Linked DNA regions of Homo sapiens. The protein of the gene in region 3 purifies or fractionates together with the protein of the main gene of each other region. This does not show direct contact. Each region holds a gene or a part of one and is shown on either strand. Other genes may lie near its edges.

Evidence for each region. The genes of interacting proteins can lie anywhere in the genome.
Region 1: the proteins of RTN3 (region 3) and PGAP4 purify together in Homo sapiens (affinity purification with mass spectrometry; one large-scale study listed by BioGRID and IntAct). This does not show direct contact.
Region 2: the proteins of RTN3 (region 3) and PLA2G4A fractionate together in Homo sapiens (co-fractionation; one large-scale study listed by BioGRID). This does not show direct contact.
Region 4: the proteins of RTN3 (region 3) and NAGPA purify together in Homo sapiens (affinity purification with mass spectrometry; one large-scale study listed by BioGRID and IntAct). This does not show direct contact.

Annotation. Positions count from the first base shown.
Region 1 is NC_000009.12:101,480,674-101,484,173, forward strand, and holds part of PGAP4 (GPI-N-acetylgalactosamine transferase PGAP4), read right to left. Parts: intron 834-3,500; exon of another isoform or gene 690-833; intron 53-689; exon of another isoform or gene 1-52. UniProt on the Homo sapiens protein: Golgi-resident glycosylphosphatidylinositol (GPI)-N-acetylgalactosamine transferase that catalyzes the N-acetyl-beta-D-galactosamine transfer from an UDP-N-acetyl-alpha-D-galactosamine to the 4-OH-position of the first mannose of the glycosylphosphatidylinositol (GPI) of a GPI-anchored protein (GPI-AP).
Region 2 is NC_000001.11:186,936,949-186,940,448, reverse strand, and holds part of PLA2G4A (cytosolic phospholipase A2), read right to left. Parts: intron 1,442-3,500; coding exon 1,219-1,441; intron 470-1,218; coding exon 355-469; intron 1-354. UniProt on the Homo sapiens protein: Has primarily calcium-dependent phospholipase and lysophospholipase activities, with a major role in membrane lipid remodeling and biosynthesis of lipid mediators of the inflammatory response.
Region 3 is NC_000011.10:63,723,000-63,726,499, reverse strand, and holds part of RTN3 (reticulon-3), read right to left. Parts: intron 351-3,500; coding exon of another isoform or gene 334-350; exon of another isoform or gene 1-333. UniProt on the Homo sapiens protein: May be involved in membrane trafficking in the early secretory pathway. Inhibits BACE1 activity and amyloid precursor protein processing. May induce caspase-8 cascade and apoptosis.
Region 4 is NC_000016.10:5,024,344-5,027,639, forward strand, and holds the end of NAGPA (N-acetylglucosamine-1-phosphodiester alpha-N-acetylglucosaminidase precursor), read right to left. Parts: intron 3,037-3,296; coding exon 2,935-3,036; intron 2,856-2,934; coding exon 2,792-2,855; intron 1,343-2,791; coding exon 1,135-1,342; 3' UTR 501-1,134; downstream 1-500. UniProt on the Homo sapiens protein: Catalyzes the second step in the formation of the mannose 6-phosphate targeting signal on lysosomal enzyme oligosaccharides by removing GlcNAc residues from GlcNAc-alpha-P-mannose moieties, which are formed in the first step.

The DNA of each region.
Region 1 (3,500 bases), on a different chromosome or scaffold from region 3:
GGACACAGGAGCTGGGATCAGATCCTTCATTCAAGATTAGATGACTGCTTTGCTGAAAATCCAACCACATGGAGTTATGTAGTCATTCAGGAGTATGTTCTTGTTTACTTTTTAAAACATTTTTTTAAAAGATTTAACCAATTGTTGCACAGTAGCCTGTGGTGTCCAATGGCACCTATAATTTATTTCACCTTACTGATCTGGTTTTAAGAAGAATGGCCAGCTGGATGTGGTGCCTGAAGCCTGTAATCCCAGCACTTTAGGAGGCTGAGGCAGGTGGATGGCTTGAGCCCAGGAGATTGAGACCAGCCTGGGCAACATGGCAAAACCTAGTCTCAACAAAAGATACAAAAATTAGCCAGGCATGGTAGCATGTTCCTGTAGTCCTAGCTACTCAGTAGGCTGAGGCAGGAGGATTGCCTGAGCCCCAGCAGGTCGAGGCCGCAGTGAGCTGTGATCGCACCACCGCACTCCAGCCTGGTTGACAGAGAAAAACCCTGTCTCAAACAAAAACAAACAAACACACAAACAAAAAAAGATAAAAGATAAATGGCCTTAGGGGAACAGATATAAAAACATAGGATTTTTCACTGCTAGTTTGGGGAAGGAGTTTTTTTACTCCCAGCCCAATCATAAGGGTGAGACAAGAGGGCTATGTCTATGTTACCACTCTGATTGTCTTTTTCCAGAATTCCAGTTGCCCATGATGTCACAGGCTGAGGCCCACACTCCAGAGACACTGTGGACTGACTGGCACCTATGAGCTGACCTAATAACAGTTACACCATTACAGCTCCGATTCTACAGAACAATACATATCCAGTTCTTATCTATGCTTTGCATGTGCTCTTTGAAACACAACCCTTCCCTAAACAGAATTCTCTACCTGTTACCATATCTAGAGTGTAGGGCTCAGGGAAGACAGTAAAGGACACAGACTCTGAGAAATGAACATGAACTAGGGCTTAGATGAATAAATGGAGCTACAACAATAGTTATATTTTAGTGCAACTTCTGAAAATTAAACTAAAGGATCCACGGGTGTGGAAGACACAATACCAGGGTGTGAGTCAGGGGATGAGTGCTCAAGAATGTTCTGTGTTTCCCAAATCCACTATATGAATGGCACGACCACTTTCCCAGGCAACTCAGTCTAAAACACTAGTTAGTTCTAACTTCTCACCTCCACGCAGTCACTTCCTAATCCCACCTCTACGGCCTCTTTTATTATGCCTCTCTTTTCCCCTCGCCTTCCCCTTGTCAAGCTTTCCTCCCTGCCACACTCTAGTTCCTCCTCAGCACCTCCAAGCCAGCTGATTGCAACAGGCTCCTAACAGAGCTTCTGACCTCCAGAATGAGCAACACAAGCCAAAAGATCTAGGTCCAATTCTCGTCCCAACACTCACTAATTTGATCAATTTGTATAAAAAAATCATTTATCTCTCTGAGCCTATTTTATTTCTCTGTGAAACAGGAAAATAAAAGATACTTCAACCAGGCGCGGTGGCTCACACCGGTAATCCCACCACTTTGGGACGCCGAGGCAGGCGGATCACGAGGTCAGGAGATCGAGACCATCCTGGCAAACATGGTGAAACGCCATCTCTACTAAAAATACAATAATTAGCTGGGTGTGGTGGCACGTGCCTGTAATCCCAGCTACTCAGGAGGCTGAGGCAGGAGAATCGCTTGAACCAGGTAGTCGGAGGTTGCAGTGAGCCAGATTATGCCACTGCACTCCAGCCTGGCAACACAGTGAGACTGTGACGATGAAGAGACAACAGCTATGATAGCCCTTTGTCAGGCATAGGACACTGTGCAAATGATGGTGATGTTTTACTTGATCAGCATCCATCTGATACTCTGAAGCATAAGTCAGAACATGGCACTCTTTTCTGTAAAACTATTCAATGATTCCCCCATGACTGTAGAATAAAGTCCAAATTATTTGCCAAGATTCTTCACAATCCAGTTCCAACTATCTTCCCAGCTGCATTTTTGCTCCTCACACTGTCTAACTCAACCATCAAGAATTAGCTCAAAAGGTACCTCTTCCAAAACCCAACCCTGACCTTTCCAACCAGAAAGAATCTCTTTTTTTCCCCTCAAGTACTGGGGCCCTTTCTATGAACTTTTCCTCCAGGGCATTCATTTGTCACTTTCTACTTCAGACTCATCTATTTATAGCTACCGCTTATTAAGGCCATACTACATATCCCAATGTTGTGCTAGACCCTTGCATCTATTTCTTCTGAACAAAATAGCAACTCTCAAAATAGCAATGGAATTAATCCCATTTAGTTGACAAAACTGATGCTACCAAGTTGCAAGAGGAAATTCAAGGACAAGGATAAATTTCAAAGCTCATGTTTTTCTATGATGCCTGTTGTCTTCCATGGCCTTGTTTATGGTCCTTGACTTACGATCTGATTGGACTCTTGAATCCTTTTTTAGTAGATTCAGTCTGATTTATCTTTGGTATCCCTCACAGACCCAGCACAGAACTATGCATAGAAGATGCTCAATGCTTGTTAAGCAAATAATTGGCTTCTTTTGACCTCTATGGGTCTCAGGTCCTCAGCTATAAAATTGGTAGTATCAAAGAGCTGGTCATATACTGTGTAGAGATCGACTTATTTGTAAATGTTTCCAGAACACTTATGTGCCAGGCACTGTTCTAAGCATCTCATCTATCGATCCTCATAAAAAGCCTCCAAGAAGTATGACTATTAAGCCCATTTTATACTTTAGAAAACTAAGTTTTTAAGCAGGGTGGCAAAACTTGAACCCAGGCAGACTGTGTCCAGAACCCACATTCTCAACCAATATGCACTACTGCCTACATAAATTTGGAGCCCAGGAAAATCAACTGAAAAACCATTAGAAATGGCAATAGACTCAAAACATGGTTGGTACCAGAATTAATATGTAAAAATAATATATAATATACATAGCAAGTATATATACACATGTACTATATATATGCATTACATATCCATATCTGTATCTATATTATCTATATTATAATGACTGCTTTCATGTACATGATCACCAATGAACTAAGGGAGTAAAAGATCCCAGTCAAAAGGGAAAAAAATAAGCAACTCAAATATCTAGAAATAAATTTCAGAAATATGCAGAATATACACACATACTACAAAATTCTACCAAAGGGTAATTAAAAAGTCATTAATAAACAGAAAAATAATGCTTAGGTGGAAAGACTTGGTAATAGAGCTCCCTTTCTCCATAATTAATCTCTATATTTAACATCTGAATTTAATTTACTTCGAGGGAGTGTCACAGTTCAACAACTAGGCACTTTAATATAAATTGGTGCAATCTTTGGAGGAAATGTTGGGGTGTTGGGGCAGTATCTATAAAAATTTTATAAGTGCATCCCCTTTGACATAACGATCCTACTTCTAGGAATCTACTCTGCAGAAATGCCAACACATGCTACCAAAGATGGATAAGAAATGTTGAGTGCTGTTTTGTAT
Region 2 (3,500 bases), on a different chromosome or scaffold from region 3:
ATGAAAAGATAACCAACAAGTAAAACAATTTGCACTACCTAAAAGCACTAGGCATATTATTTTGTCAAAAGTTACTGAGGAGTGGATAATTAATTGACTGTATTGATTGATTGTATCCATGATTTTTATTTTACTATAGTAAATGAAAATACATTAGTTACTAGTTTCATGGAATATTCTCTACAACCAGGAAATCATCTCACTTAATATTTTCTTATATCTTCAAAGTCTTATGTTACAGAAAATACATTAAAATAAACAACTGAAATTGCTTATGACCTTCCTCTAAGGAAAACCATGGGAAACTGCAATTCAGAGGTTCCAGGAAGTGTTCTGAGAAAGGAAACAGCATACCTGCAAACATCAGCTCTGAAACGTCAGGTTTGACATGAAGACAGGTGAAAAGAGGTAAAGGGCATTGTGCAGTATTAACTTTTTCCTTCAAACTGCTCAGAGTAGTATTCATTCTCTGTCCACAGAAGAAAGAAAAAGATGACTTTAAATTTATAAACAGACACAGAAAGAATGCTATTCAAAATAGTACTTCCAATCAAAATCTTATAACTTTATAATAAAAATAAGTCTTATTACTTCTAGAAATTACTAGGTCCTGAATGAACAACAAAAAATAAGCTCTATGGAAGTAACTATCTTCATTTAAAAAATAATCATAACTCTAGATTATATGTCTACATCTGAACTGGAGAATGAATTAGCAACTGTGGAGCCTGGAAGAAACTTAGCCCCTGGACTCCCTGTCACAGGCGCTCCTCTGCTTTATCTTCAACGAAACATCAATGCAATCATGCATCAAGCGAGTCTGTTCTATGCGATCCCCTTCCTTTCTTGACTCTATTCAGGCAAACTTCATTCTTCCTCATCTAAAAATGTTACCATTCTTGGAGGGAATGGGCAGTTAAGGGTTAAAATGTGAATTTTTTTTTTTTTTTTTTTTTCCAGAGAAAAGGAATACAAAAGCACTTCCTCACACATTCAAAATCTTTACATCATTGAAATGAATTAGTAAGCACTAGTTTGAAAGGTAGAAGAATTATAATCTCTGGTGGGGAGAATGGGCTCAGTACGCATAGTTGGACAAATAAGTAGAGTCCACTGACTTTTATAAAATGTATTACATTTTCTTTTATTTAAAATATAATATTATAATATGTTCTGTCTACTTGTTATAAAAGCAGTGTAGATTGAACTGTAACTTACATTATGAATTAGTGTTTCTCCTATTAACATCCCAAAGATATCAGTAAAGGTGACAGGTTGTCCAGAGCTTTTCTTCTTCCATAAAGACTCAACATATCTTTTAACTTTCTGTGGTGTGAGAAGTAAAAGGGGATTGTGGCTAACATTTTTCATTAGTTCTTCATTAATCTCCTCTGGCCCTTTCTCTGGAAAATCAGGGTGAGAATACAAGGTTGACATATACCTATACAGAAAACAAAACACAATCAGTAAAGATAAAGAGCATTACACAACAGTCTCCAAAGAAAGAAGGCACACTCTGTAAATAAAGCATGGTGGACATATTTGGTTAACTTCATTATCTGATTGCAGATATTAAAACATTTAAGAAAAGAATGTGTCAATCAGACAGGAGCTAGTCTACCATGAAGGTAAAGAAAAAAAGAGGTGTCAGAGGAAACACTGAACTTTCATCCACAGTCCAAGAGAGAAGGTGCCCTACTAGGACTAGTGTCCATTGTCTGGTGTGCCAGGAATGGAGTATCTCTATCAGAGTATTAGAGATTGATGACAGAGCACATCTGAGTCATGTAAATGAATTGACTTGTCTGGCTCCAAGACTAGTCAAGCAATCTGATCATCTAAATTTCCAGGATGATTATCTACAGGTAGAAAATATGTTGTCCCAACTATTGTAAATTCCTAATTCCCTTGAAAAATCCTTTTTTCTCCTTAATTATCCATTGGCCAACTAGACAAAAATCTCAAATCTTGTCAACTGTAGGTCTCTAAATTTCTGAACATATGAATCTGAAGGCAAAATCCTAAAGAGAAATAAAGTCTTTAAAGTAAATGCTTTCTTACGAAGCCTCTTGTCTGCCAGCCATTTGGCCACTTCTGGTAAAACTGGAAATCACCATGAGCCTTGATATTTGATATCTAGATAATAAAAATTTAGTTATGGTGCTCCTACCTGTGAACCAATACCTCTAGTATGGTAGATCTCATGCTGACTATTAATTACTCGTTTACTTATCTGTTTCCCTCAAGAAATTGTGTCCTCCTCCTTCAGGAAATAAACTTTGTTTATTCATCTTTTTTAGCCTCAGTGACTAGCTAATGTCTGGCATATGACAAGCACAGCTTAGGAAACTCACAGAACAAAATAAAAATAGAATATGTAAACATTCCATCACTTCATCCAACCAAGGAGAAAATAGCACATGTTTTAATCTCTTATTTCCTTGGGATTCAAATCAAAATGTCTACTATAATGGTTATCGTCCCTTCGAGGGGAGAAAACTAATTCTTCTTAGGCCCCTACTATATTCTGGGCACTGTGTTGGTTAATTGTTCATAAGCTGTTGTCTTGAAGACTCACGGTGGCTTTCAAATATTCTATTTTAATTATCAAGAAAAAGAGCATTGGGAAATTTAAATAACATGCTCATATTCCCCAGTTTATAACAGCAGAACTGGAATTCAAAATTTATCCTCTCCCCAGTAGGCTATTTTTTTTTTAGTCTATTATACAAGACTTCAGTTGTTAGAGACCAAACTATTCCTATTTCACAATAAATTATAATTCCTTATTGGGTTTGAGTTCCTTGGAGACAAGCTGAGAATAATAATCAGTTAATAAATGGAGGGTAACAGACCCACAATGGATCACATGTGCAGAAAAAAAAAACTTTAAATGATTTTTGTACAACAAATTGAATTTGAAACAGTTCCCTCAACATGTGATAATGATAAATCAAATAGACTTGCTCAACTCAACTTAGTATAATCACGAAATATCTATAAAAATGCAGCTTTGAATACTTGAAAGATACACAGTTCATTTATTCCTATAGTTATTCCAAAGTCTACCATGTGATTCATCCAAATCAAAAAAGATATGATATTCTGGACCTTCTCATACTTTTAATAAATGCACAATGTACTCTCTGAAGATTGAAGTAATCTGGTGTTCTCTCTCTCTCTCTCTCTCTCTCTTTTCCCGTCTCATGAAGCAGTTGGCTTGGAAATACAAACCCTGGCGAGAAACAGAAAAACCTAGAATACTTCAACCATTGGCATTGGATTAATGGTCTCTGCTTGTTCAGCATTTATGACACATATTCCTTAGAATTCACAAGGAGAGTTGGATAATCTTTTCATGGTGTCCCTGCAGTTACATCTAACTGAGTGAGATTATCTCAAAAAATAAAAAAAAAAAAACATAAAAGTATCACCCCAGTTTTTAACTCTATAGTTAAGCCTTAATTTTCATCTCTTTACCAATAATGTTTCCCAATTAT
Region 3 (3,500 bases):
CACAGTTTATTTTATCTACAGAATTTTAGGCTGTCACTCTCTGGATCTCTCCCTTCCAAGATTCCTCCTCCCCTTACATTCCACTGACTCAGTGGTTGTGGCTGACCCAAATGCTGTCCACTGCTTAGGTTTTCTATGAAGGTTTAAGCCAGCCTGTCAGGTGCCCACTTCAGCCTGTCCTCTAGCTAAAAGCAGTAAAAATAAAAAACTAATTTCATGCTGTCTCTTCTTACATGTGTCAACTCTCTTTCAGAATCTGACTGCTCCCGTTCATCCTCCAGTGCCTTCGGGTCTTTGTTTTTTAAAAATTTTGTCCAGTTATATGCAGGAAGGTCAGGTCCAGTAAAAGCCTACTTGGCCATAAGAAAAGAAAACCATTCTGACATTGCTTTTAAAAATTACTTCAGATTCCCTGTATATGTAGGTATATAGATTCATTTTTTTTCTTTATGGAATCTTTCTAGCATAGATTCACTTTAAATGATACCAAGATAGGAATTATTTTGTATTCCTTGTTTGGTAACTCTTTTCATTCCACTTTAGCACCCACCATCTGCTGGGTGCTGAACAATGTAGTTTTTACTAATAAATTACGAACATTTTTACATAACAGAAGACACTAACTTTGACAGTAACTAGAAAAATAAGGCACAGAGCTAGAAGTGAAACTGATAAGCAGTAGCACCCTAACGCTGGGGAAATAGTCACATATGTGTAAAAACAGACAAGTATAACAACGTTAACTTAAGGCCGGGCGCGGTGGCTCATGCCTGTAATTCCAGCACTTTGGGAGGCCGAGGCGGGCGGATCACGAGGCCAGGAGATTGAGACCATCCTGGCTAACACAGTGAAACCCCGACTCTACTAAAAATACAAAAATAAAATTAGCTGGGCGTGGTAGCAGGCGCCTGTAGTCCCAGCTACTCAGGAGGCTGAGGCGGGAGAATGGCATGAACCCGGGAGGCGGAGCTTGCAGTGAGCGGAGATTGCACCACTGCACTCCAGCCTGGGCGACAGAGTGAAACTCCTCCATCTCAAAAAAGAAAAAGAAAAAGGAAAAAAAAAAAGAAGAATGTTAACTTCAGCGCTGTCTATAATAGCAAAAAATAGGAAAGAATCTAAATCCTTACCAAAAGAAAATAATATATTCATATAATGGATTACTACATAGCTGTTAAAATGAATAAATTATATAAATTCCAACATGAAAGAAGTTTAAAAACCTAATGTTGAATGGAAAACGTTATACAACAAACATGATAACATGAATGAATGGTTAAAAAGCATAAAACAATACAAACACATTTATTTAAAATAAACTGGAAGGATGTACCAGGTCCATGACGGTGTTACGTCTGGGGAAGGGGAGATGGAGGGCGTGGCCAGGTGGTAATCAAAGAGTCCTTTAGTTTGGAAGCAAATATGACTACCAATGCTAACAATTAACATAAGTTAATTCTACATATAGAGAAGATATGGGTGTAGGCTGCCTTTGTACTTTTCTATATTTTTCCATTTCTTAAAAAAAAAAAAAACAAAACTTTAACAACTTCAATGACTGTGTAATATTCGATTGCACAGTTATACCATAATATACTCAACCAATCTCTAATTGTTAAGACACCGAGATATCTGCCACTATCATAAACTGTGCTATAATGAACATCTGTGTAGTTATTTTTGCACATTTTTAAAAAAGGATAAATTCCAGCTGGGTTCCGTGGCTCACGCCTGTAATCTCAGTATTTTGGGAAGCCAAGGCGGGCGGATCACGAGGTCAGGAGTTCGAGACCAGCCTGGCCAATATAGTGAAACTCCGTCTTTACTAATAATACAAAAAATTAGCCGGGCGTGGTGGCAGGCACCTGTAATCCCAGCTACTTGGGAGGCTGAGGCAGGAGAATCGCTTGAACCCGGGAGGTGGAGGTTGCAGTGACCCGAGATCGTGCCATTGCACTCCAGCCTGGGCAACACGGTGAGACTCTGTCTTTAAAAAAAAAAAAAAAAAAAAAAAAGGGCCGGGCACGGGTGGCTCACGCCTGTAATCCCAGCACTTTGGGAGGCCGAGGTGGGCAGATCACCAGGTCAGGAGATTGAGGCCATCCTGGCTAACATGGTGAAACCCCGTCTGTACTAAAAAATACAAAAAATTAGCCGGGCGTGGTAGCAGGCGCCCGTAATCCCAGCTACTCGGGAGGCTGAGGCAGGAGAATGGCGTGAACCCGGGAGGCAGAGCTTGCAGTGAGCCGAGATTGCGCCACTGCACTCCAGCCTGGGCGACAGAGCGAGACTCTGTCTCAAAAAAAAAAAAAAAAAAAAAAAAAAAGAATTCCTAAAAACAAGATTGCTAGGGCAGTTCTAGGTCTGTTACATATTGCCAACTGCCTTCCAGAAAGGCTGTAACAATTTACATGTACTTCACCAAACTATATGCTTATTTCCTTGCATCCTGCCAATCTGGATACTAAAACACAAAAAACTATCTTCACTACACTAGGTATGTGAGAGGCAGGGATCTGATTTTCTTCCCCAAACTATGAGAGTCTATCATAACTTAATTACTCAGCAACCAACTATAATATGATAAAGGCTTCATTACAAGCTGTTACATAATATACCATAAAATAGCAAAAACAAACAGAAAACCACTAATTCTTTCATTGTTTCTTTTGCCTATTTTCCCAAACAACTTAAGGCAGAATATAATTAAAGCACTGTTTTTACCTTAGAAAGGAAGAATATGCAGATACACGTATTTAAAACTAGACAATCGGCTGTGTGTGGTGGCTCAGGCCTGTAAATCCCAGCACTTTGAGAGGCCAACGCAGGCGGATCACTTGAAGCCAGGAGTTTGAGAGACCAGCCTGGCCAACATGGTGAAACCCCATCTCTAGTAAAAATACAAAAAATTAGCTGGGCGTGGTGGCACACGCCTGTAATCCCAGCTACTCGGAAGGCTGAGGCAGGAGAGTCGCTTGAACCCTGGAGGTGGAGGTTGCAGTGAGCCGAGATCGCGCCACTGCACTCCAGCCTGGGCAACAGAGTGAGACTCTGTCTCAAAAAATTAAAAAAAAAAAAAAAAAGATAAATAAATAAAACTAGACACTGATGCATTTTACTGAAATGGTTTATGTTTTTATTTATTTATTTCACTGCAATGAAATGGATTATATTTTTAAAGATTTATTCATAAATAAGACAATTTTAAAAGGTTTTCACTTTTGAAAGCTGCAAGAAAGGCCTTTAAACTTCTTGGTCTAACTATACCGGTCTTCTTTAATTACAATCTAAAAACATACACTAATCATAGACTTTGGTCAGTGACAAATATCCTGAACTTCCATAGCCCTTTACATCTCTCACGCTAGATTAAATAATTCAGTTGATAATCACTAATAATTAGCATTTACACAGCACTTTATTTACTGCAACATACAAAGCAGGGCAAAATAATGATCATCACATTAACAAAGGAAGATGCTGAACCAATTAGACTAGTC
Region 4 (3,296 bases), on a different chromosome or scaffold from region 3:
CCATGGCAGGAGGTTGACTTGAGGCCAGGAGCTTGAGACCAGCCTGGGCAACTCAGTGACACCCCTTCTCTGCAAAAAAAATTTTAAAAATTAGCTGGGCATGGTGGCATGTGCCTATAGTCCCAGCTACTTGAGAGACTGAGGTGGGAGAATCACTTGAGCCCAGGAGGTCAAAATTGCAGTGAGCCGAGATCGTGCCATTGCACTCCAGCCAGGGCAACAGAGCGAGACCCTGTTTCTAAGAAAGACAAGAAGTGTGGTCTGGGGACCTGAAGCATCAGCATCGTCAGAGAGCTTGTTGGAAACGCAGAATTGCTGGCCTCACCCCAGGCCCAAATCTGCATTTTAACAAGATCTCCTCGTGACCTGTGGCATATTAAAGTTTGATAAGCACTGGATTAAACAAGCAGGGAACAGGACTTGGCTCCAGGATGCCGTTGTGACTTCTGTTTCAGGATAAGCCACACCTGCTAAGCCCTAGCAGTGACCTAAGTCCATGATTCAGAATCCACACACCACCTGGTGGCTCCTTTTATTATATCAATTTATTCAAGTGATTAAAAAACTTCTTGGCAGCAGGATGACAAAACAGGTCTGTAAACATGATCTCATCCCCCCATCCCTTCTTCCAAGGAGCTTCCTATGACAGGAAATCGAATTCTAGTTGGCAAATCCAGTGATGAGGTCTGTAGAAAAGGGGTCCCGTGTCACAGCCAGGAAGGCAGACTCGTCCCTTTAACCCACTCCAGCCAGGGGTGCTGGCCAGGATGTGCTGTTCTGTCATGACGTGGTCACTGAGTCTGGTTCGTTGGCAGCCCCTTCCCCAGGAGGAGGGAGACTCTTTGGCAGTGCGGCAGCCCTCCCGGGGGCACGGGCTTCTCGGCAGCAGACACAGGCAGGCCAGAAGCAGGCAGCTGAGCCTCTCCAGCGAGCATGGTATTGCTAGGGTTGCAGGTGCCCTGGCAGGTGGCCAGGTGAGGGGCTGAGGCACAAGTGCTATCAGGAACTTGGCTGCCCCACAGGGGCTGAGGACACCCAGATGGTCCACGCCAGTGGCCTTGAAATTTCCCCTGCAGAAGCCAGACCGTGGGGAAACAAGCTTTCGCGACGTGCCACCCCGGGCAGCTTGAGGCTTCAGTCCTTGAAGGGGTTGTGGGCGCCCCCTGGCTGCTCCTTCTCTGCGGCCAGAGGCTCCCCGTTCATCTCCTGCAGCGGGTGGTATGCATAGTCCCCATGCAGGCGCCGGTTCCTCTCTGCTCTGGACAGGAGCAAGGACAGGTTTGCTGCAGTGCTGATCAGCAGGAGGAAGGCCAGCGCCAGGGTGAGGGCTAGCCAGGCGGTCCTGCAGACAGGAGAGAAGCCCCAAGTGGGGGACTGCTGGGTGGGCTCAGGGCTTGGGTAGCACTGGAGGGGCTTCCCTCTACCCGGCATAGATAGCACTAAATCAGGTGCCTCCAGGGACCACACAGGGAATGTTATGAGCAAAATGGACTAGGTGGGGATGGGGCAACATTTAAGACATGTGCAGGGAACAGCAGAGGCAGTCATGACGTACAATGCAGGTCCGTGCTGCCCCATCTCCTGATTTTTTTTTTTTTTTTTTGAGACAGAGTCTCGCCCTGTCATCCAGGCTGGAGTGCAGTGGCATGATCTCAGCTCACTGCAATCTCCGCCTCCTGGCTTCAAACGATTCCCCTGCCTTGGACTCCCGAGTAGCTGGGACTACAGGCTCGAATCACCACGCCTGGCTAATTTTCGTATTTTCAGTAGAGACCAGGTTTCACCATGTTGGCCAGGCTGGTCTTGAACTCCTGACCTCAAGTGATCCACCTGCCTCGGCCTCCCAAAGTGCTAGGATTACAGGCGTGAGCCACCACGCCTGGCCTGATATTTTAAGAGAAGCCATTAAAAAGGTTTTTAAGGCTGGGCGTGGTGCTCATGCCTGCAATCCCAGCACTTTGTGAGGCTTAGGCGGGCGTATCACTTGAGGTCAGGAGTTCAAGACCAGCCTGGCCAACATGGCGAAATCCTGTCTCTACTAAAAATATGAAAATTAGCCGGGCACCTGTAATCCCAGCTACTCAGGAGACTGAGGCAGGAGAATTGCCTGAACCCAGGAGGCGGAGGTTGTGGTGAGCTGAGATCGCACCACTGCACTCCAGCCTAGGCAACAGAGTGAGACCCCGTCTCAAAAAAAAAAGTTTAAAAAAATGTGAATGTTACTGATTTTTAGATGCTGCTGATATATTTTAACTTTTTAAAAATTATGTAAGCCAAATAAAACACAGCTGGATGCTGGGCATGGGGGCTGGGAGGCCAAGGTGGGAGGATCACTTGAGCCCAGGACTGTGCACCTCGTCTGTGCAAAATAGTGAGATCCTATCTCTAAAAAACAGTAAGAAATAAAATTAGCCGGGCATGGGGGCACGTGCCTGTCGTCCTAGCTACTTGGGAGGCTGAGGCGGGAGGATCGCAGTGAGCTGACTGTACTACAGCACTTCTGCCTGGGTGACAGAATGAGGAAACCTCCTGCCCCCACCCTGGGATCTCATCTAGCCCAGTTTGCATTCTGAGCTCCAGTGGGGGATGCTGACAACAGAGGCTGGGCACTCGAAGGCCCTGGGCTCTGCTCCAGGGTCCCCAAAGCAGACAGTGGGGAGAGCTGGTCCCGCTTCCTCTAAGGCAGGGAGCTGGCAGGGGACAAGGGCAGAGATGGACCTCACAGGGGAAGGGTGCGGGAGAGAAGGGGGATTCCTCCCGCCCTGGCCCCAGCTCCCACAGAAGCACCTACCTGGTGAAAAAGGAGAGTTCTCCCGCCCTCAGGGTGGCTTCAGGTGGCTGGAGACACTGCTTTACTGTAACATACCAGAGACAGGCTGAAGGGGCCGGAGCAGGAGCGTCTGCCCATACCCCTCCCCTTGGAGGGATAGGTACCTCTGGAGACGCTGCAGTTGCCAGTCTTGGGGTCACAGGGACAATGGTGCTCACACTTACAAGGCCTCTGGCAGCCCGGCCCATGCCAGCCAAGGGGACACTCTATGGAAAGGAGATGGGAGGAGGGAGGAGGGAGGAGAAAGGTTGGGGCCTCCAGTGTCAGAGCCTTTCTCGACAGGACAGGATACCTGCCCCTGCCCATGTGTACAGAGCCGGGCTAAAGGTGAAGCACCCCCTGCCCTCCCTGGACTAGCCCCTGAACGTGACCTTATTTGGAAGCAGAATCTCTACAGAGGCACTGCAGTTAGGATCTCAAGATAAGACCGTGCTGGATTTGAGGTGGGCCCTGGAGCCAGAGCCCG